7 linked regions of the Homo sapiens genome follow. The protein of the gene in region 1 purifies or fractionates together with the protein of each later gene. This does not show direct contact. Each region holds a gene or a part of one and is shown in the gene's direction. Other genes may lie near its edges.

Region 1 (2,710 bases):
TATCAGGCAATGTTGCCAGAGAATGAGAAGTAGAGTTACATAGAAGAAAAACAAATACCTTACCTTCAAAGTGCTTAAGTAGAGTCTGTCTGTCTGGTGCTTTGTTCCTTAACTAACATGTTTCCTGATCCTTTTTCTTCCCCAGGAAGGATTTGATGCCCTGGATCCCTTTATTCCCATCCTGGTTTCCAACTATAACCCAAAGGAATTTGAAAGTTGTATTCAGTATTATTTGGAAAACAATTGGCTTCAACATGAGAAAGGTCCATCATTTAGTTTTTTCCTATCAGGGCTTTGTGATCACAGTAGAATCCCACTCAGTCAGAGCCTTGATCTCTTCTTCCCTTAACAACAGCCTCTAATTTGTACTTCATCCTTTATCTTGACTTCTTTCTGGCTGATAAATGGTACAGAAAAGCGGGTGGGAGGCAGTTAAGGTTTAATTTACAAAAGAGATTTTATCCCTAAATTTTCCATGATAAAGAAGGGAACAAAGGCAACTCCATCCACTGGGCAGAATTTCCAGGTAATTGGGTTCCTGCCACATTCTCCTTATTGAATTTATTTATTCAATAGACTTCACTGGAGAGACTCATGCTGGGACACCCACAGAAAAATTCATACTGTGCAAGGGCTACTCCAGCACCTAAGTAAATCTTTGCCACACCTGTCCTAGTATATGTACAGAAATTAACTTTCAGCACTATATTTCATCTACTCTGACTGAAAGCATTCCAACTGTTCATTTACTTGCCCTTGACCTCACATTTGAGTATGAAGAGGGGATATAGAAGAAAAGCTAAGGCTGCTCTATCACTAGATAATAGAGTTAATAGTAATCGGAGGCCTGGTGCAGTGGCTCACACCTGTAATCTACACTTTGGGAGGGCAAGGTGGGAAGACCACTTGATGTCGGGAGTTTGAGACCAGGCTAGGCAATATAGTGAGACCCCATCTCTATTGAAAAAAGCAAAAAAAAAAAAATACTATTTAGAATAGCTTATTAAAGGAGTACAGTGAAGAGTGTAAGACTAACTGTAGCATGTTAAGTTGGGATGCACAATAGACAGATTTCTAAGAGTTGGGAGATGTCACAAAATCCTGAAGTCCAGAAGACACTCTTGGAGTGGAGAGAGAGCTCCATGCTGGTTTGGAGGAGTAGACACAGAAAAGGAAGTAATGCATACAAAAGAAGAGTAGCTTGTTGGGGTGAGGGTCTAGAAGTAAGATCTCTTGGGAGATGATAATTACCTCAGAACGTAATTTGGATATGGTAGCCTCTGACTACACGATATTCTGGGGAACACAGTGCAGCAGGAGGAAACTGCCACTTACCTGTGTTTGTCTCCATTTTAGCTCCTACAGAAGAAGGGAAAAAAGAGCTGCTGTTCCTAAGTAACGCGAACCCCTCGCTGCTGGAGCGGCACTGTGCCTACCTCTAAGCCAAGATCACAGCATGTGAGGAAGACAGTGGACATCTGCTTTATGCTGGACCCAGTAAGATGAGGAAGTCGGGCAGTACACAGGAAGAGGAGCCAGGCCCTTGTACCTATGGGATTGGACAGGACTGCAGTTGGCTCTGGACCTGCATTAAAATGGGTTTCACTGTGAATGCGTGACAATAAGATATTCCCTTGTTCCTAAAACTTTATATCAGTTTATTGGATGTGGTTTTTCACATTTAAGATAATTATGGCTCTTTTCCTAAAAAATAAAATATCTTTCTAAAGTGTTGTGTTAGATTAATAATATGGAAGGAGTCTTTAGATTGGCCAAATTGCATTTCTCTGATATTCCTCTTGTTGCAGGTCAGAAGAGATCAATTCTACAGAAATTTCCAGTGGTTCTGTTGAGGCTTTATGGAATTCAGCATGTCAAAATTCACAGCTGGCTGGGCACAGTGGCTCATGCCTGTAATCCCAGCACTTTGGAAGCCCAAGGCGGGCAGACTGCTTGAGTTCAGGAGTTTGCAACCAGCCTGGGCAACATGGTGAAAACCTGTCTCTACTAAAAATACAAAAATTAGCCGGGCACGGTGGCATGCGCCTGTAATCCAAGCTACTTGGGAGGCTGAGGCAGGAGAATTGCTTCAACTTGGGAGGCGGATGTTGCAGTGAGCCAAAATTGCACCACTGCACTCCAGCCTGGGCAGCAGAGCAAGACTCCGTCTCAAAATAAATAAATAAATAAATAAATAAATAAATAATAAATGTATACTGTACTGTTTTACATGACCGACTTCAGCATCTAAGGATGTTGCTACCTGGAGGAAGTGGGATCCTGGAACGAATCCCACATAGGTATGAGGAATAACAATAATGGAAAATCAGGTATCTTCCCTTTCTCCCAGTGCTTTTCTAAAAGGAATTTCTGTTACCAAATCCTAGAGATGATACAATTCTACACAAATATATATATGGCCGGGCGTGGTGGCTCATGCATGTAATCCCAGCACTTTGGGAGGCCGAGGCGGGCAGATCACTTGAGGTCAGGAGTTTAAGACCAGCCTGGCCAACATGGTGAAACCCCGTCTCTACTAAAAATACAAAAAGTAGCCGGGGGTGGTGGCACATGCCTCTAATCCCATCTACTCGGGAGGGTGAGGCAGGAGAATTGCTTGAACCCAGGAGGTAGAGGTTGCAGTGAGCCGAGATCATGCCATTGCACTCCAGCCTGGGTGACTGATAGAGACTCTGTCTCAAAAAAAAAT
Region 2 (3,500 bases), on another chromosome or scaffold:
TTTTATTTTTTGGATTATTCATTGCTAGTGTACAGAAAGACAATTGATTTTTGTGTCTTGATTTTGTATCTTGCAACTTTGCTGAACTCATTTGTTTTTTGTTTTTGTTGAAGCATTTCCACAGTTGATGTATTAATTCAAATAGTAAAAACTATTCCTAGTAAAAACTAATCCTAAGTGGATTCCTTAGGATTTTCTTTATATAAGATCATGCCTTGAGCATTTTTAACCCTACTCCCCCGGCTGTTGTAGGAAGAGTGCTGGCCCTGGGGAAGCCCCTTCCTCACCCAGGCTTCACACATTTGACCCTGGCTCTCTCTCAGGAGGACCCCTCGCTGGAAAGGCATTTTAAGGGCCACCGAGATGCAGTTACCTGTGTGGACTTCAGTATCAACACAAAGCAGCTGGGTAAGAAGAGGCACCCTGTCTAGGTGCTAGGTTATGAGCTGAACAGGCCAAGTTTTTACCTCGGAGGGGTGGTGGGTGGGAAGCAGAGCACAAGGACTGCACAGCTTTGTCTAGACCTGCTTCTAGTCTTGCTTCTGCTTGCCAGCTCTTTGGGCACTGGGCTTCATGAGCTTCATTTTACATGCAGAGCCTGAGGGTCAGAGAGGTTAGGGGCCTTGCTAAGGCCACAGAGCTTTTGAGGGTGGGACTGGGATCTGGGTCTTTTCTGCACACCCTAGCCACCTTTTGGGTCTGTCTTTTGGTGTGGGCCCTAAACAGTGACTCCTTTTCCTTGAAGCTTTACTGATTCTGTTGCCCACAGTAATAAGGCACACCTTGTTGAAGAGCCTTGTCAGTGAGAAGGCTGTTGAGCAGAGATGGGCACCCCCCTCGACCCCACTGCTCTTATGCTGCAGCTGACTGTCCCCCTTCCTTGGTTGCATGAGGTTTCGTACACAGCTTTTATGACTGCGCTTTCTGGTTCCTGCAGAGGAGGCTTGCCCCTTCATCCTGTCATCAAGACCCTCTGATGTGTAAAGGTTAAGAGGGAACTGAAGTGATTTTTGATCAGTTTTGGGGACCTCCTTTAGGCTTCATACTGAGTTGGGCCCTCTCAATGGGAGGGGCTGGCTTCCCAGCTGGGGAGGACTTGCTCTCTGGTGCCCTCAGGATGTGTCTGGGGGGAGACCCTGGGCCCCATGGGAATGAGTTTTCCCAGAGCTCTGGATTGCAGTCCAAGGCTAGCATGGGAAGGGCCTCGGTCTTATTCCCATGTGGGTGTGCTCCTTGGAGAACTCTGGGCCACAGGCTCTCCACCTCCAGACCATACCTCGAGATGTGCTCTGCTCCATGGGAGACTTCTCACGGTCTGTTTGTGGATGCCAGGGAAGATGGAGCTGGGCCAGTTGCTCCCCCTGCCTCTCCAATGTCTTGGTGGAGGCTTGAAGCCTGTTAGAGCTGTAGGTCATAGCATCACCCACTGTCCTCAGCCAGTGGCTCCATGGACTCATGCCTCATGGTCTGGCACATGAAGCCGCAGTCACGCGCCTACCGCTTCACTGGCCACAAGGATGCCGTCACCTGTGTGAACTTCTCTCCTTCGGGACACCTGCTTGCTTCCGGCTCCCGAGACAAGACTGTCCGCATCTGGGTACCCAATGTGTGAGTCGTACACTTTGAGGAGGCTTGTTGGAGTCTGGGGCCCTGGTGCCAGAGCCATCCCCACCCAGGTCCCCTAGCTTGGCTCTGGACTGGTCACAGTGGGACTTCTACTCTGCTTTGGAAGAGGTGCCATCAGAGGCTGGGGCTGCAGTTGGAGCCCTCCCCTCAGGGTTGGAAGAGGAGTTCTGGGCTTACCCAATCTATCCCTAAAGAAATGCCACCTGATGCTGTGTTCATGTGGGTGGGGCCTAGAGATGGTGCTCTGTTCATATAGGAGAGGCTCTGGCTTTCCCTTGTGGAGACTGGGGTACTCGGGCTTGACTGACTTTGGGAGGGGTGCTTGAGGAGTAGGAGAGCTTTGATGTGCTTGTGGGCTCTCATGTCACTGTTATGGGTTTCCTTACTCTTGGATGCCTGTCCTTGTAGCAAAGGTGAGTCCACTGTGTTTCGTGCACACACAGCCACAGTGAGGAGTGTCCACTTCTGCAGTGATGGCCAGTCCTTCGTGACAGCCTCTGACGACAAGACAGTCAAAGTGTGGGCAACTCATCGCCAGAAATTCCTGTTCTCCCTGAGCCAGCATATCAACTGGGTCCGCTGTGCCAAGTGAGCATTGTTCTGTCTGGAGACCCTTGGAGGAACCCTGGGGGTTGGGGGCTGGCCCAGGGGCTGCTAGGTACCAACTTATGACCTCGGGCAAGTTACTTAGGCATTGTTTAAGCTTCCTCAGCCTCGGTTTCCTTATCTGTAAAATGGAACAATAATAGCTCCTGCATTGTAAGTTGTCGAGAAGCTTCATGGAGCTGATGCATGACATGTAAGTTAGTCCATAGTCAGCCATGATGACCCTCTGACATCTGTGTTGGCAAAGCACAAACTGGGTCAACAGGGGCCATTTATTATCAAAAACAATTAGGTACTTTCAGTACTACCATTACACATTTTCTTTTTGTTCCTTAAGACAGTTCTGCAAGCTAGGTGCATTTCCATTTTGCAGATGAGGAAATGGGGGCTCAGAACAGTAGTATCTTGTCCCAGAGCACACGGTGGGTCTGTGGCAGAGCTGGAGTTTGAACCCAACTCTCTCTGACAGTAAGGCTTGCCTACTTTCCTCTGGGATGTTCTCAGGGGATGATTTTGCTCCAGAGCTCCCAGATGGGGGCGCAGGCTTCGGAGATGGGGGGCTTAGCCTGGAGGCTAGCCTTCCTGCTGGCCAGGGAGCCAGTGCTGTGCAGACAGCGGGCCAGGTAACCCAAAGGACCTTTCAAGGTCCAAGAATTGCAGACAGATAGTCCTACTTCTAGCTTATTTCATTCCTTTCAACAGAGCTTCCCCATGGGTCAAATATCTTTGCTTCAGAGGAAGGGGTTGGGGTGCCAGGTGACATTAGGAAACCACATGAGTCAGAAGTTGGGGACTATTGAGCTGTGTTCTTCTGGGGACCCCATACAAGTTACTGTTCTCCAGGGCACCCCCATTCCTTTGTCCTGGGAGACCCCTGATGGCTCTTAGAGGCTTTATGACTAGGGTCCTGAGATCAGGAGGGGCCAGGCCAGCAAACTGGGGTGTCAAGTCCATACTGGGCCTTTGGTGGCAGTCCCCAGGACCTCATGCCTTTTGTTGGCAGATTGTGTCTTGCTGACCCGCACTTGAGTCAAATGTAGACTCGGAGGACCTGGTCCCAGAGTAATGACACTGATGGTGAGCTTTTGGCCACCTTTATGCAAATGTTGCCGGCAGGCAGTCGGCTGCATGTTGCCATGTGCTGTGCGTCAGGGGCAGTGCTGGGGCTTTATGTGCATGAGGCTGCTCTGTGCTCACTCGTGAGGCAGGCACCTTTTTTTTTTTCTTTTCTTTTTGTTTATTTATGTTTGGTTTTCCTCTAAGTCAGG
Region 3 (3,043 bases), on another chromosome or scaffold:
CAGTGGCTAGCATAAGAATTTTTTGGCTTAGTTTTAAAACAAATTCTAATGGGAAATTTCTAGATGGTTCTAGTGGAAAGAGTTGGACTTAATAGTAGTTAATTTATTTTTGTTTATTTTCTTGTTTTTGTATTCTTTATTTTTTGTTTGATAATAGTAGTTCATTTAAACTTTGAGGCTCACTTGCTGGAGTGTGTAATTTGTCAGGGGGCTGTGACTTCACATCATGTAAGTTAGTGTTATTGATGTGCTTTTGCTTTATTCATTTAGAGATGGTTTCACTCTATCGCCCAGGCTGGAGTACAGTGGTGCAATCAGAGCTCACTGTAGCCTTGAACTCCTGGGCTCAGGCCATCCTTTCACCTCAGCTTCCCAAGTAGCAGGGACTACAGGCATGTACCACCATGTCCAGCTAGTTTTTAAAATTTTTCTGTAGAAATGGGATCTTGCTATGTTATCCAGGCTGGTCTCAAACTCTTGGGCTCAAGTGATTCTCCTGCCTCAGCGTCCCAAAGTGCTGGCATCACAGGTATGAGCCAAGTACCATTTACCAAGTGACAACTATGAAATACATGCTGGAAATAATAATCATAAATAAGCCAGTATATTTCATTTTCCAAATGCTATGATATAAATATATCACCTGATTTCCTCCTAACTCAATTCTCTCAGCAATCCTATAAGATGGGTACTATTATTATCCCCATTTTATAGATGAGGAAGTTGAGGCTTAAGGAGATTTAAATAATTTGCCTCACATGCTGCAACTAGTAAGTGGGAGAGCTAACAGGTCAATCTAGGTCTGACTCCAGGACCAAGTGGCAGTGAAGTTGGTTGGTCTTGTCCCCCCCCATCCAGGATCCTGGTGAACATGGACGACAACATTGTGAAGCATTACTCCAATGAGGACACCTTCCAGCTGCAGATTGAAGAAGCCGGGGGGTCTTACAAGCTCACCCTGACGGAGATCTAAAGGCCTGCGGGCCACAGCTCCCCAGGAGTTCAGTGCAGGTGTTTCTAGATCTTACGGTTTGGCAACTGCAGGTAACCCCAGTCAGCCATGTCGCCAGCACAGGTCTATGTCGAGGGAATGGGTTCCTTGCAGGTTGGAGGCGGGGCTGCATCTGGCTTGGTGGTAGCATTTAATCTATTGCATTGGTGTTTTTCAGATGAAAGAGAAATCCATATACCATTATGTTTGAATTTCCTGATATATACAGGATTTAAAGTGAAAACTTTATTCCAAGAGTTAACAGAGTCTCTGGGAAGCTTTAGGACATCTGCTACGTTATTTATCAAAATATTGGGATCTCTGCCTTGTGCCTACAGTGTCGTGGGCCTGCTCGCTAGCAGAAGTCAGAAAAGGCGATAGGCTTGGCTTTAAGGATTTCGTGCCCTTGCCTGAATTCAGTACAACTCCACTGCCTCACGTTAGCGGGAGCGCACCTGAAGAGTACGGGGGGAGCCCTCTCTCCCTTACCCTCTCACTCTCCACCAGATGTTTACTAAACAGGGCATGTTACTGAAATCTTCCTTTGCGACTTTCTCGGACATATCAACTGCCTTTCTCATGAAGAATTTTAATGGGTTACAGTATGAAATCAGTTAAGATAAAGCTGCATTGTATATAAGTGCAATATATTTTTGAAGGTCTGTAAATGTGTACATACATGTCTTATATAAATATATAATATATAAATATGGTGTCTGTGTACATATAGTGAAGATATGCAGTAAGAGCTACCTTAAAGACTTTCCCTAGACAAAGGTTAAGTTATTTTTTGATCGTGTATACCAAGCAGATAGAATACTGTGCTTAGTGGAACCCGCTAAAAACCTTTTTCTCTGTTTTTCCAAACACAGGCATTCTGTAGCATAGCAAAACCTTCTCAAATGACAGAGATTCTGTTTGCTGTTGAGAATGTTGTTATTTGGATTTCTGCACTGTTTAACAAATGAAGTAAAAGAAAAACACTACTGCAATCACGTCTTTTGTTATGCTAGTATCAGTCAGATGCACTTAGAGTGAAGAAACACTGTAATTACAGCACACAGATTGCAAGTATTGCGTACCAAGTGATACAACTCGAAATGCAGTTCTCATCTTCCTGTTTTGAGAAATGATTATTTTATCACGCATCAGAGCCTTCGTGCTTTGATTATCTTGTATGTTAACAATTCTAGAAAACATTCATGAATTCACAAAAATATGTTACTATGGCAGGGGAACATTTTGTACACATTTAAGTATATAAAAATACTAAAATATGTAATTTTATAACAAAGTCACGGGTATCTTTAGGTTCAGGGAACTAGACTAGGTCATTCGTGTAAATGGACTGGTAGTTACAGTCTTAGGTTAAAGTATTCTAATGAAGTATGGGAACTAAATTGCTGGTTTTCTAAGATAAGATATGGGATATGGGTCATATAACTTTTGTATTTTTTATGAAGTTGATTTTGTCTTGCGTGTTATTTTTAATTGTATCATTGAAGATGTATTTTAAACCAAAGGAATTAAATTTTATATGTCTATTTCGTAATATGTCATTTCCTGTTTTTCAATTTGACTTTGCACTGCTCAGTAAAACGTGAGAGCTGAAAAGCATCTCATTGCTAGCACTTTCTGCTTATTTCTTAATGTGTGCGCTTAGGTTGTTTTCTTCATGTTAACTTTTCCTTACTGATGCCTGAAATGATCCACGTAATTGTTAAGTCAGGGATCCCTGAATGATTTTCCAATTCTTACCAAAATTTAACCACTAAAGCTGAAGGTAAATGCTTTCATACCTAAAATCTTAGTATTCTTAGTGTTTAAAAGCCTAACAGAAAATACTTAGTTTAAAAATTTACCAATATTTAAATCATTAGAATCTCTAAAACAGGCGTCCTGAACATATTCCAGGGTAATCCAGGGCCTAAATATGATAGACACTAGGATATATTTTTAATGGATACAAGATCAGATTAATGACGTAAACTCCCTGATAGGGCTCCTGGGACATCTGCACTTTTCACAGTAACCCTCGGGCCAAAGTGGAGA
Region 4 (3,500 bases), on another chromosome or scaffold:
AAGACATTTGTTGTTAATGATGTCCTTTGCTTTGGCTTCCAAGAAAAAGCAGCTGAGATATATATATATGTATATATATATATTTTTTTTTTGAGACAGGCTCTTGTTTTGTTGCCCAGTCTGGAGTGCAGTGGCACAATCACAGTTTACTGCATCCTTCATCTCCTGGACTCAAGCAATCCTCTCACCTAAGCCCTCTGAATAGCTGGGACCACAAGCATGTGCTACTATGCCTAGCTGATATTTTAAATTATTTGTAGACACAAAGTCTCGCCATGTTGCCCAGGCTGGTCTTGAATTCCTGGGCTTAAGTAATCCTCCCGCCTCAGGCTCCCAAAGTGTTGGCATTACATGCGTGAGCCTGACCTTCAGAGATCAATTTATGGCCTTTTGTCTATCTTCTATTAGCCCTGATTTGTCATCTTAAACTTTCTGTTGCATCTCTGCAGGGAGCCCTCAGATTCTTTCTGGGATATCAGAATCATCAAAATATGATAATTTAATTCCATTGTAACTTCAGAGATATTTTTATATTCATTTACTGTGCCAGGAGGGGAGGTAGAGGCTCTTGGGAACATTTACTGCCTGTTTAAACTGTACATTAACTCAGACACCCAGAGTGGTTAGTTTCTTAGCTTTTTACTAGATGGTTGAGTCCAATATGGAGAAGAGGATTTTGATAATAGCATTAGCTGTCTACCTTACTGAACAAGTTTGTTGGCCTAATCAAACCTACGCTTTGGGGAACTCTTAAGTTACAGTAGATTTCCTCATAGGGAAACTCTATTAAATCTTCTTAAGCAATGAAAGAAAAAGCTGTCCATTAAGAACTTTCGTGGAATAATATGGTTCAATATTTTTTTCCATAATGTGGCATCAGAATAATATTAGATTTTTAAATTATTTGTCAGTGTTAGATATTATGTGCTTTTTGTTGCTGTGGTACATACTGTGTGTCTTATCATAAAACATTTTGGAACAAAACGGTAAGCTTAATTTATATGATTAAAGTAAATCAGTTTATGTGGTTAAAAAATACGGGCACAAGGAGATGTTTTGAAAATGTGGAGAATTGTAATTTTCTGAACTCCCTTTAGGGATATATACTTGTTAAGGCTGATTTCTCAGTTATATGTTTTTAGAAACATAGTATTTGCCATTTTGAATCTTTAGTGATTAAAAACAATCAATTTAAAGTTGAAAAAAACTAATTAGACTTCTGACCATATTTAAGGTACATTTTAAGAGGTGAATACTTCCATGTGTCCCAGACTTTTTGAAAACTAGAGATCCTCAGAAATAAATGGTAAAAGACAGGCTATAGAAAATTTTCCCCTCAACAGGAAAGTTATATCTAGATCTAATTTTTACCACTTTTAACAATTTGGAGAATTTGCTATCTGACTTGCAAGTCCAAACAAATTTGGTAGAATTTGTTCTTGATGGGAATAAATTTAAAAATGCAAAGGAGAGAGTCCAGTGATTGGCAAGAGAAAATAGTAGAAAAGGAAATAGAGCGAAAATAAAAATTTTGACAATGGAGGGCAGCAATTAACAGAGAGGAAATTACAGCCTCAGAATGCACACCTGTATTTAGTAGGATGTTGGAATATGAAATGTTTGTATATCAGAGGGCTGATGGCATGTGCTTTGATAATGCAGTCATGGTAGGCATAGCTTTGCAATTTAAATTATAGGGAAGAAATGGAAGCAATATTTGTTTTATTGTAGAGATATTTGGATTTTTGTAACATGTGAATATTAAGATCTTTCCCCAGCTGTATTGGAGGATATGTTAATCCTCCAATGAAATCATTCATGATCTTTGGGATCATGAGGAAATCTAGGAAGTCAGTGACTCAGGCATAAAATTAGAAAGGCTTGAACATTTTTAAATTGTACTAAAGTTATAGAGAAGGGAAGTCTTAAGTGGGCAAGGGATGGTAAGTGGGAACTGACTATGTACTTGAAAACATTTCAGATGTCATGATGTGCTTTTTATAGGGCTGTCTTTGTTAGCACAAAATAATTTGTGGAGTGTTTCAAGGTCTACTTGAGATAAACTCTTACTAACTCATGATTTCCAGAAAAGCCTTAAATTCCTCAAAGGTCTTGCTGGAAGGAAACCTAGCTCAAGGGGAGGGGAGGTCTATAGTCTTTGGGATTAGAAAGACTCAGGTTTGAAAGTTAGTTTTGCTATTTAATTCATGCTTGTGTCAGTGATTTCACTTTGGACCATGGCTTGTCTCTAACAAGTATACAGTAATTTTTCAGTTTTTGTGAAGTTTAGATATAATGGGTTTGGCATCCAACCTATGGTAGCTGCTGTTATTTGTCATTTTAGGAGCCTAATCTAGTGACTGTGGAAGGATCTATGGTATTTTAATTGTTTTGCTTCTATAAAGTTTTAAAGGCAGTATTGTTCAGAACTGAAATATAGATGAAGAGAAATTCATCTAATTTGCATCCACTTTTCATTGCCTATTTCTCCAAGTGACTTCTATATCATCTTAGGCATGCATACTTTTGTAAAGTCCTTTATCTGCATAATAGCTTTTAACATTATTTTATTTAAAATACAACTTACTAGGTTTTTCTCTTAAATTTATAGCATTGTTTTATGATAGACTATTTTTCCATATCCTTATAAACTTTAAAAAGATTGTAGAGGTGAGGCGGGTATTTAAATATTTGAATTTTTCTATCTAAATGCAAGTTATCAGAAATGGCAAACTGGTTCCTTTTTTATGTTTTTTAACACTTGGAATATATCACAAGGAAAATATCTTGTGTATGTTAAAATGAGCATTATTTTCAGGCCTTTTTGGGGAATATTTAAAGTTTCTGTAATAGAGCTGTAGTATGTGTTACAATTGTAGTGGTCCCAAAATTTCCATTTGTCTAGCATTTGCTGTCTTATTTAATTTCACAAAGATAAATTTATTTGGAGACTACTAAAACTAGTAAGTGTAGAAGAGCTCTACAGAGACTTAAAACTTAACATTATGATCATTGTTGGGTATGTTGGTTCTAGCTTGTTTATTAATAAAAATTTTTATGACAATGCAAAGTAGTGAGCTTAAACTCAGGGATATTTTTCAATGTGTATTGTGATCTGGTTTTATTTTAAAATTTATTGCAAACACATTTTGTTTTTATTTCTCACTGCTTTTATTATTTTTTAAGCATCTAATTAGGTGAAACTGAATTGATTCAATTTTTATGTTACAGGAGATTACCTGGGGCAATTGATGTTATCGGTCAGACTATAACTATCAGCCGAGTAGAAGGCAGGCGACGGGCAAATGAGAACAGCAACATACAGGTTTAGTATTTTAAAATAAATAATTTTCTTTAACTGAAGGATGATATCAACATTATAATTTAATTTATTCAATAGATAGTCATAGTGCTATGCTGTGTTTTAGGTGATACAAAGAGATTTAAAATGTGAAGCCAGTCATTTATTATAAAGGCATTTCCAGTTAGAATTTATAATC
Region 5 (3,500 bases), on another chromosome or scaffold:
AGGGAATTTTAAGTAGGGTAAGACAGGAGCACAGGTGTTTAAGAAGCAATGTCTGGTTATATAATCAAAGCGGTAAAACATTTAAAAATAAACATAGATGATAACACAATTTTAAATAATTTAAAATTCTTTTCACACGTGAGTACTCCTTGTTCTCTCTCTCTCTTTTTTTTTTCTTAAGAGCATTAATCAAGTCAACATAAAGCACTGAAAATAATTCTGGTGAGACACAGAATGTCTGCTAGCTAGGCAGATTCCACAGAAGGTAAAGAACATCCTTTCACATTGTAGGCATTAATCAGTAAAGTAAGGAAGCAAGCCATCAAAACTGAGGGAACTTAGCCAAAATTGTAATGCATCTTATACCTTTTTTTCAGACTAAAGTATTATAAGCCAAAGCAAGTAAAACTGACTTTCCAAGTTTTGTCCTTCATTTTTCTCTTTCATATTCCAGAACAAATAGACACTTTAGTATTGCCCTTTTCATCTTCATTCTCTCGAAAGTATACAATGGAGTTTTCCAGAAGCTACATGATAAGTGATATTATGATTATGATAAATGCAGAAAGATGATTATCCATCTCTTCTATTAAGCCAGACATTAGAAAGGCTCGCAAAAATATTAAACAATGTCATTTTTCTCATCAAAATTTTTTGTTTTGGAAAATATCTTTTTTTACAGAATATGTGACTTATGTTAAAATGAAATGGATTCATCATTGCTATTTTCAAATGAATTAATATTTTAAAAATTTCTCAGTTTTAATTCCAAATTAAGTATATATCGATCATTATCACTTACTAAACCAAAGCTCTTTGGTGTCGTCAAATAAGTTGTAAGAGTATAAAGGGATTGTGAGACCAAAAAGTTCAAGAACCACTGCTTTGATACAAAGCTACCCTGTTTTGATTTGAAAAACAAAAACCACTGTATTTCTTTTTCATTAATGCTCCTGGCATAATCTCAACCACCCATTTAAATTATAATAATTAACCAGAGAAACTAATTTATATTTCATAGAGAAAATTAGGAGGAGGGAGGATATGGACAATTGGAAATCGTCCCATATAATCATTTTAGCAGACTAGCAAAACTCATGAACACACATTACTGAAATTTCCATAGTGACATAAGGCACTTTTACATTCCCTTAAAGTGGCAAAAAATGAACTCCTGTATTGACACAACTCAAAGGTATAGCCTCACTATAGCATAGAAAAATAAGAAGCAAACATATATAAACTTAATATTATACTTTATAATCAAAGTCACAGTATTCTAACTTACTTAGAAATTATCTAGGTATCCAATGATTATTGATTAGCTCAGGTTAACATTAGTCCATTTTGTTACCTAAAGACCTTGGAAATTATCTTTAAGTTGATACGCTACAAAACATAATTGCTATTCATATAAAAAGTTTGTCAGAATAGTTATTCAATTCAGCTGAACACAAATTTATATTTTTAATAATCTTAAACATTATGTATGAGTTCACTTGACCAGCTATCCTGAATAAATTTAGGAGAAGTAAAAATAAAATGCACACTTGTATTCTGTTCAACACTAATAAATCAGAGAAAGATGTAACATTTTAAAACCTATGTTACTAGTCTCATTTGCCAAATGAAACTTAATTTTATGAACTTGGATTCTTAAAATATTACTGAATTGGCTAGCAGTTTCTATTAAAAGAATTTTTATGTTTAAGTCTAGCAGGTTCAAAATATTAGAGGTTTGATGTTCTGTGATTTTAGGAGGATTCAACTTATAAAAGCACTTGTTTATCAAACAATCAGAACAAGTTCTTTTAATTTAAAAGGTATCGTAATCCAATTTATTGACACCCTCTGGAAATAGGAAAGCATTCCACACACAGCAAGAGGTGAAGGCTTTTCTGGATTATAAACACATAGACACACACAGCTTAATAGCTTTAGTTTTTCAACTTCAGCCACAGATCAAGAATAAATAGAAACACAAAAAAATCACCAGTCCAGATATCAAAGAGCTGTTCTCCTTCCCAGTAGAAACAAAATTCTTCATTGATTTGAGCTCAAAATAGACGAACATACAAAAAAAAAAAAAAGACCAAGAAACTATGTACCCTATTCTCTCACCCAATAGAGAATAGATCTCTGTAATCCATTGCTAGCAATCACTCAGACCATAAAACTAGATTCTCCATCATTTTTGCCGCCAAGAGGGAATAACTTGTCAGCCATGCACAAACTAGAAAGAAAAATAAAACAGAATCAGGAGAGAGAGAGTAAAAACTAGAGAAATGGAGAGCCTGTGAAATTCAAGTCTGTTACTGCTATGGATTCACTCTGGGAGCCAAGTAAAGGCATGCCTGGTCCCAAGCCACTTGTGAGGTGCACACCTCAGGCAACACAGTTTACCTGGCTGTGTCAGGTAAATCCAGTGGGCATCTCAATGGATGACCTCCAAAACTCTTCAAGGATAATTTTTTAAAAGGAAAAATCATGACTCTTGAACAAATGTGAAATGAACATACGCTACACATTTTGATCACTTAAGGAAGGAGGGAACCAGTAAGAAGTTACAGCCCATTCAACAATCAGCTTTTTTCCTTAAAAAAGGAAAAAAGTTGTAACTGACAGATTACCTCTTCCTGGGGCCTGAACATGCCAGGAGCATTCAGACTTATTTTAAATCCTGGATACTCTTCTGACCTTTAACATGCTGAAAATTCCAACAGGTTTCTAAGATCTACACTGGGGGCTCGGAGTGAGTGAGCACATTGGCTGACTTTGCCAAGGTTTCTGCTGCGAGGCCTTGCATTTGTTCTCCTAAACTGTCAATAACCCTTGGTTTCTTTCACAGCGACAGAGTCCAGGCCCTCTCCTATGCACAGCACACGCGACAATTGATCTCCTGTGGCGGTGATGGTGGGATTGTCGTCTGGAACATGGACGTGGAGAGGCAGGAGGTAGGTGGCACAGCAGGGTGGGGTGGGCCCTGTGGTTCTGGCCCTGCCTCCCTTCCTGCTTATTTCTTATTTCTTTTATGATTAAACCATGAAATAAGGCATGTAACGTTAAAGAATTGTAGCATAAAAGGAGTTGTTTGGGTTGTTTTTTTTTTCCCTCACAAGTTGGCATGTAACATTACTGTGATGGAGAGTTCATAAGAATTTTGACTGAGACTAAGCTGTTTAAATCTGTTACACCATTCACAGCAAAAGTACAGGTGAGGAAAAGAAACCATCTATTTCCTGGTGATTAGTCCTTTGGTATAAAATGCACTACAAAAACGGAGGACTCACGTGATTTATGTCATGGAAGAAAATAGTGGCTAAGATGAAGCAAGAATCCTTAGTTTGGTATTAATAGAAATACTAGAAATAATTATTTTGTACTTTATAAGTCATGTTCTAAATAGTTCCCCAGATATCAATATATCCTTAGTTTTCTAGCACGTATTTACATGTTATCAGAACATTCTTTTTTATGAGCTTTCATTTTAATCTTTGAGC
Region 6 (3,500 bases), about 110 Mb from region 1:
AATGATTCTGGGACTTTTTTAATAAGATGCTGTAAAATCTGACTCCAATTAAATACAGGGAAGATTTGCTTTAATTAAGGAAAATGTATGTGATAAAAGAAATCACTTTGGAAGCTAGCAGTTGGTTCTATATGTAGTTCGTGTAGTGGAACAAATAGACTTGGCTGGAGGCACCTGTCTCTTATGAGGGAGGGAGACAGACTGACACATAACGTGCTGTTTTCTGTATAAAGGAGAGGGTGCAGTGTTCGGGATGACTATTGTGACGACTTTTAATTGGGGTTTTTGGATGCGCTGGATTATATATGCTAGGATTGTAAGGAATTTTTATAATTACAATATTGTATGTAAATTTTCTGCCTTTAAAGACATAATTTCATTGTAAATGTGTTTATTCCAGCCTGAATTACCACCTGATGAATTGTTACAACCTTGTTAGAATTAATTCATGAAAGGGCTTCTCCCTGATGGTTATATTGTGAAGAAGGTGCTAAGTAACATGAGCATAGAGCTTTTAAAAATAGCAGAAGTTTTGGCTTTATTTTGTTAGACTGTGTAATCTAGAAATTCTAAGAAATTCATTGAGTTATTCTTTTGTGAACTGTGTCTACAAAACATAATCGGAGAATGTGACTAGAGGGGTTTATTAGCTCCCCCCAGATTACTGTTGAATTTTGTTAGTGGTTGAGTATTGATCCATATTCACCAAAGATTACCATGAATTGGCAACAGTTTATAGTGACCAGAATAGGAATATTTTTCTGTTTCCAGAGTACTTAAAATGTTTAAATTAATAATTCTTAATGTTTTGAGGTGAAAGAATTTGGAGCAGAGGTCACAAATTTGTGACCTTCTGGCTAAAACTACTCCCAGATGCTTTGATTAGACAGTACAGTATTTTTTAAAGGAATTGGGATTAATTACTAACATTTATAATTCAGGAGATAACACCAAGTAATCCAGATTATTATATTTTTAAGATCTGAACTTTAGCTGGCTTTGGGGGCCTGTATTTCCACATAAGTAAAAACCACCTGGCCATATTGTCACCACATTTAGGTGGGGTATACTTTTTTTACGACAGCCTTCACGCCTGGCCTCTGTGTATGCATTTGAGTTTATTACCCATGGTCTAGGAAGATGTAATAAACCAAGCCAGGGAAAGGTTTGGCTATCTCTCTTTAGTCACGCCTATCAGGTTTAGTCTCCCTTTGGGGTGGGGGCTCCCTTGTGGGGATTCCATATGTACATAACTGATAGGTGACTTCCAACACATGTTGGTGAAAATAGATACAGCTAACAAGTATTTATACTAGGGTCTATAGTAAGTGCTTAAAATGAGCCAATTTACTTAATCTTTAAAAACCTTTGAGGCGTAGGTACTGTCATTCTGAGGCACAAAGGAGTTGTTACTTGTCCCCATAAGCATAGGTGATAAGTGGCAGGATTGGAACTGTTTTTTGACTCTGGAGTTAGTGTTCACCAACTGCTCTTATGCTGTCTCTGAAATAGACCCTAGCCATTTTCAATTTGGTTGTTGTCCACATAGTTACAGATAATTTCTTAGGGTGATTATTTTTAGCCGTTGAAAGACTCTTAAATGATCCAAGTATGTCACTGGGGCTCTTGTCTGCTGACTTGCTAGGTCCTGGATTTGAAAAGTTTTCTGCCTTTCACTATCTACTTTGTGAAGTTTGGGATTGTTAAAAGTTCTAGTTTAGCATGTAGGTCAGCTATACAAATAAAAGGACTTGCTTAATTCCTGATACTGGGAGGTGAAGAATTAAAGGAGAGAATGTTGCACCTTATCTCCCTTAATCTTTTTTTTTTGTATGGCCTGCAAGGTAAGACTGAATATTGCCTTTTTAAAGGGTGATTTTTCTTGAGATGGAGTTTCACTCTTGTCACCCAGGCTGGAGTGCAATGGCACGATCTTGGCTCACTGCAACTCCGCCTCCCAGGTTCAAGCGATTCTCCTGCCTCAGCCTCCCGAGTAGCTGGGATTACAGGCGCCCGCCACCACACAGGCTAATTTTGTATTTTTAGTGGAAACAGGGTTTCTCCATGTTGGCCAGGCTGGTCTCAAGCTCCTGACCTCAGGTGATCCACCCGCCTAGGCCTCCCAAAGTGCTGGGATTACAGGTGTGAGCCACTGCGCCCGGCCTCTAAAGGGTGATTTTTTTTTCTTTTTTAAAGGTGGCGGTGTAAAGTACTTACTGTGTGGTTGTTGGTTGTTTGAAGTGGAGTCTCTCTGTGTTGCCCATATGGGTCTTGCACTCCTGGGCTCAAGTGATCTTCCAGCTTCAGCCTCCCAAATGTGTGGTTCTTAATAGAAGTGTAAACCTTTGGAAGGATGTCATTACCAAAAATCTCTTGGGCTGTTAAAGTCACACTGATCTTAACTTGATCACAGTAGATCCATTGCTAAGCCACATAAGTCATGGGTAGACCGTAACATAACTGACAAAATGTTTTGGCACTAGGGAAGGTTTAAAGACTTTTCTGCAGGTGCTGCTAAGGGAGAGATGTCGAAGGTTCCAAACTGGAACCCTAAAGACAAACATCAATGACATGTATGCAGGAGACATTAGGAGAGATTTGTATGCTGGTTATATTAACCATTGATCTTAAGCTGGCAAGAAGTCATCCGTGTTCACCAAGTCACTGATACGTGACTTGGAGAATACTAGTAGGTCCCACTCCCTGTGTCCTCCCAAAGTACAATCCTTTACTCTTGAAATCTAGGATAGAGAACTAGTATCCAGTTTGACTCGTGAACAATGTGAGTTTGAACCACACAAGTCCACTTACACACAGATTTTTTTTGATAAATATATTGGAAAAATGTTTGGAGATTTGCAACAACCTGAAAACTTCAGATGAACCACATAGCCAAGAAGTATCCCCCAAAATAAGGAAAAGTTGAGTATGTTGTAGATACTAGTCTGTTTTATTATTTACTACCATAAAATGTACACAAATGCATTAGAAAGTTAATACAGCCATTTGCAGTTGAGAAATGTAAACAAACATAAAGATTCAGGCAGCATTAAATCATAACTGCACGACATTCACTGTAGTAATATTGTACTATTATAATATGTAGCCACTGCCTATTGCTACTGCAGTGAGCCCCTTAAAATGCCATGTGACGCTAATCATCTTCACATGAACAGTTTATCTCTCCAGTAAATTGCATGTCAGTAAAAAGAACTTGTAGTACACAGGTATTGTGGTTTAGTGCAATACTGTAAGTCTTCAATAGCACCATGGGACCCATGCAAAGTGGCGCTAGTGATGCTGAGAAAAGTCATGGCATTGTAAGAAAAAGTTCAGTTGCTCGATATGTGCTATAGATGAGGTCTACAGCTGGAATTACCTTTCAGACAGATGTACACTTACCGTATCGATAAGTGCAGTACTGTACATGTATTTTCTCTTACAACTTTCTTAGCATTTTCTTTTCTGTAGCTTTATTGCAAGAATACAGTATATAATAC
Region 7 (3,500 bases), about 150 Mb from region 1:
CTGTCTCCGGGGTTCAAGCCATCCTCCCACCTCAGCCTCAGAGTAGCTGGGATTACAGGCGTCCGCCACTGCGCCCAGCTAATTTTTGTATATTTAGTAGAGATGGGGTTTCACCACATTGGTCAGGCCGGTCTCTAACTCCTGGACTCAAGTGATCCACCCGTCTCAGCCTCTCAAAGTGCTGGGAGTACAGTAGTGAGCCACCGCGCCCAGCCAAAAGATTTTTATGGTAAAGTTTTATGATGGGAAAACTGTCATCCCAGAAAATTTTGAGACCTGATGCTGAGGCCTCAGCAGCTCAGAGAATACGTACTTCTGTCCCACGACACCCAAACATCGACCTGTGTCAGTTCCCCTCTAGGAACAAAACGTAACTGAGGACGTTGTCAGATGCTTGTCCTCGTCACCCTGAGCTTGTTGGCTGGTATCCTATTCTTATTCATTCCCTTTCTTGCCTGCATGTGCTTGATAGCAGATCAATGACAACAGCCATTGGAAGCTTAGGAAAAGCGAATGTAACGTGAAAAAATAGAGGACACTTTAGCCATCGCCTGACTTTCTGTTGAATTGGGAAAGAGCCTCCTCCCGTCCACGTGGGATGGCCTTCCTGATGTGGCTCTCCAAGACCATCCCTGGGGGGATAAAACCTCACAAATGCATCAGGCCGTGTGCTGGGGATGGTGCATCGTCACGCCAGGTCTGACTAGGAAGGAGGATGGGGAGGCAGGGCTGGGGGCTTTGAGGTCGAGGCGTGGCCGTGGATTCCAGAAAGCCCCTTGGCTGGTGTGCGTGCCTGCCCAGCGGCATCCGTGTATCCTAACACCTGCCCTCCGTGTCCTTGCGTCTGCAGGTTATGCCAAGGACGCCCTGAATCTGGCACAGATGCAGGAGCAGACGCTGCAGTTGGAGCAACAGTCCAAGCTCAAAGTGAGTGGGGCCGGTGTGGGTGGGGAGGCCGGGGCGCACATGGGGTTCGGGCATGGAGATTGGTAGGGCTACTGCCGGTGGGTAGGGCCGGGGGTGTGTACATGGGCAGCAGTGGGGCCCAGGGCCAAGCTTGGGCGCCTCATTTCACAGAAGGAAACAAAGGGAGGTGAGAGACGCTGCCGCAGAGCCGCCCGAGAGGGAGGGCTGGTGTTGGTGAGGGCGTCTGGTCGTCCGGAGGGAGGGCCGGTGTTGGTGAGGGCGTCTGGTCGTCCGGATGGCCTGGATCTTCTCATTTCATTACACTCAGCAGGATTTTTTTGTTTTATTTCGTTTTATTTATTTATTTTGAAACGGAGTCTCTGTTTCCCAGGCTGGAGTTCTGTGGTGCCATCTGGGCTCACTGCAACCTCCGCTCCTGGGTTCAAGCAATTCTCCTGCCTCAGCCTCCTGAATAGCTGGGATTACAGGCACCCGCCACCACACCTGGCTAATTTTTATATTTTTAGTAGAGTCGGGGTTTCACCATGTTGGCCAGCCTGGTCTTGAACTCCTGACTTCAAGTGATCCACCTGCCTCGGCCTCCCAAAGTGCTGGGATTACAGGCTTGTGCCACTGTGCCTGCCTTGTTTCATATTATTATTTTTTTATAGACAGAGTCTTAGTCTGTCTTCCAGGCCGGTGTGCAGTGGCGTGATCTCAGCTCACCGCAACCTCTACCTCCCGGGTTCAACCTCTTTCCTCAGCCTCCGAGCAGCTGGGACTACAAGAGCCCGCCACCACATCTGGCTAATTTTTGTATTTTTAGTAGAGATGGGGTTTCACCATGTTGTTCAGGCTGGTCTCGAACTACTAACCTCAGTTGATCCACCCACTTTGGCCTCCCAAAGTGCTGGGATTATAAGCGAGAGCCGTCGCACCCGGTCCACTCAGCAGGATTCCTAAAATAAGCATGAGCTCTGCCCTCAGTGCAGTCCAAAAGGGGGTGTCCGGCCTCCCTCCCGGGGGGCCTTCGCGGGCTTCTGCTGGTGCTTCTGTGCCTGTGGGTCTGGATTCCTCCAGGGCCTGATCCTGGGTGCAGATGCGGCTGGAAGCCCTGAGCCTGCTGCACACACTAGTCTGGGCATGGAGTCTCTGCCGTGCCGGAGCCGTGCAGACACAGGAGCGGCTGTCAGGCAGTGCCAGCCCTGAGCAAGTGCCAGCTGGTGAGTGCTGTGCTCTGCAGGAGTATGAGGCCGCCGTGGAGCAGCTCAAGAGCGAGCAGATCCGGGCGCAGGCTGAGGAGAGGAGGAAGACCCTGAGCGAGGAGACCCGGCAGCACCAGGCCGTAAGAGCGCAAGAGGCCGCGAGGGAGGCCGCCCGGCTGCGGGGAGCGGCCTGGGGCAGGACTGGGAGCTGGGTGTGGTCCCGGGGCACTCTGGAGTCAGCCATTAGAGCTGCCCTCGGAACGGCCTTGCACAAACGCCTAAGACCTGTAAGGTCCCTCACTGCTGAGCCGGACGGGAGGTCCCCGCGCCTCCCCACGTTTGTGTGAGGCTGATGGCGCGTCGGAGTCCCCGGCGCTCCGCCCAGTCGGCCCAGACTGCAGCTCCCGGCTGAGATGTGTCTTTGCCGCCCTCTTCTCCCCCAGAGGGCCCAGTATCAAGACAAGCTGGCCCGGCAGCGCTACGAGGACCAACTGAAGCAGCAGGTGAGCTCAGCCTCCCCTGCGAGGCGCCTGCGTCCCTGAGAACGTAGGTGGCTTTGTGGGACCAGTCAGTGGGTCAGAGGCCACGGGGCAAGAACGCTGGGGTTGCTGACGGTGGGTGCTAGAGCAGGGGAAACTACTCGGACAGACACGCACCAGCACACGTGTACAGGCACACATGCAGACGTGTGCACACATGTACATGGAGACACAGGCACCTACCCACACGGACACACACTCCTCGCACACACACTCCCAGCACACACAGACAGGTGCACCCACTTCTGCACACACGGGCACACACACACCCCTGCACACACGGGCCCACACACAGACACCCCCACACAGAGGCCTGCACTCACACACCCGCAAACATACCCCCACACAACACGGGCAGGCACACACCCACATGGACACTCACACCTGTAAACACACCCCCATACAGACAGGTACGCACATACACCCCGCACACACACACACAGATACGCACACACACACCACACACAGGTACGTACCCCCCCACACACACACAGGCGCACACATACCCCCCACAGGCTCACTGGCACCCGCGCACTCGGGCACACACACAGCCCCACACACACAGGCGCACACCCACACACACATGGGCATGCCCCCCCATAGACGGACACACACACACCCACACACATGGGCGCGCGTACACCCCCCTATACACATGGGCACAGCCCCCCCGCACACATGGGCACGCACACAACCCCCCCACATGGGCGCACAGACCCCACACACACATACGGGCACACACGCCTTCCCGTCACAGGGACACACACACACACCCGCACATGGGCACACACCCACACACGGGCGTACACACCCCCCCCCACAGGCACGCACAACCCCCCCACCCCCCGCA

What was found.
Region 2: the proteins of DAP3 (region 1) and POC1A purify together in Homo sapiens (affinity purification with mass spectrometry; one large-scale study listed by BioGRID and IntAct). This does not show direct contact.
Region 3: the proteins of DAP3 (region 1) and GRHL1 purify together in Homo sapiens (co-immunoprecipitation; one large-scale study listed by IntAct). This does not show direct contact.
Region 4: the proteins of DAP3 (region 1) and FIP1L1 fractionate together in Homo sapiens (co-fractionation; one large-scale study listed by BioGRID). This does not show direct contact.
Region 5: the proteins of DAP3 (region 1) and WDFY2 purify together in Homo sapiens (affinity purification with mass spectrometry; 3 studies listed by BioGRID and IntAct, with this or other methods). This does not show direct contact.
Region 6: the proteins of DAP3 (region 1) and YBX1 purify together in Homo sapiens (co-immunoprecipitation; 3 studies listed by BioGRID and IntAct, with this or other methods). This does not show direct contact.
Region 7: the proteins of DAP3 (region 1) and ATAD3A purify together in Homo sapiens (tandem affinity purification; one large-scale study listed by IntAct). This does not show direct contact.

Annotation. Positions count from the first base shown.
Region 1 is NC_000001.11:155,736,801-155,739,510, forward strand, and holds the end of DAP3 (small ribosomal subunit protein mS29), read left to right. Parts: intron 1-145; coding exon 146-263; intron 264-1,356; coding exon 1,357-1,442; 3' UTR 1,443-2,210; downstream 2,211-2,710. UniProt on the Homo sapiens protein: As a component of the mitochondrial small ribosomal subunit, it plays a role in the translation of mitochondrial mRNAs. Involved in mediating interferon-gamma-induced cell death. Displays GTPase activity in vitro.
Region 2 is NC_000003.12:52,147,924-52,151,423, reverse strand, and holds part of POC1A (POC1 centriolar protein homolog A), read left to right. Parts: intron 1-252; exon of another isoform or gene 253-323; coding exon 324-408; intron 409-1,436; coding exon 1,437-1,608; intron 1,609-2,034; coding exon 2,035-2,214; intron 2,215-3,500.
Region 3 is NC_000002.12:9,999,735-10,002,777, forward strand, and holds the end of GRHL1 (grainyhead-like protein 1 homolog), read left to right. Parts: intron 1-858; coding exon 859-973; 3' UTR 974-2,543; downstream 2,544-3,043. UniProt on the Homo sapiens protein: Transcription factor involved in epithelial development. Binds directly to the consensus DNA sequence 5'-AACCGGTT-3'.
Region 4 is NC_000004.12:53,422,641-53,426,140, forward strand, and holds part of FIP1L1 (pre-mRNA 3'-end-processing factor FIP1), read left to right. Parts: intron 1-3,231; coding exon 3,232-3,325; intron 3,326-3,500.
Region 5 is NC_000013.11:51,748,462-51,751,961, forward strand, and holds part of WDFY2 (WD repeat and FYVE domain-containing protein 2), read left to right. Parts: intron 1-2,848; coding exon 2,849-2,954; intron 2,955-3,500. UniProt on the Homo sapiens protein: Acts in an adapter protein-like fashion to mediate the interaction between the kinase PRKCZ and its substrate VAMP2 and increases the PRKCZ-dependent phosphorylation of VAMP2.
Region 6 is NC_000001.11:42,685,418-42,688,917, forward strand, and holds part of YBX1 (Y-box-binding protein 1), read left to right. Parts: intron 1-3,500. UniProt on the Homo sapiens protein: DNA- and RNA-binding protein involved in various processes, such as translational repression, RNA stabilization, mRNA splicing, DNA repair and transcription regulation.
Region 7 is NC_000001.11:1,515,162-1,518,661, forward strand, and holds part of ATAD3A (ATPase family AAA domain-containing protein 3A), read left to right. Parts: intron 1-472; exon of another isoform or gene 473-654; coding exon of another isoform or gene 655-697; intron 698-850; coding exon 851-927; intron 928-2,005; coding exon of another isoform or gene 2,006-2,149; coding exon 2,150-2,251; intron 2,252-2,554; coding exon 2,555-2,614; intron 2,615-3,500. UniProt on the Homo sapiens protein: Essential for mitochondrial network organization, mitochondrial metabolism and cell growth at organism and cellular level. May play an important role in mitochondrial protein synthesis. May also participate in mitochondrial DNA replication.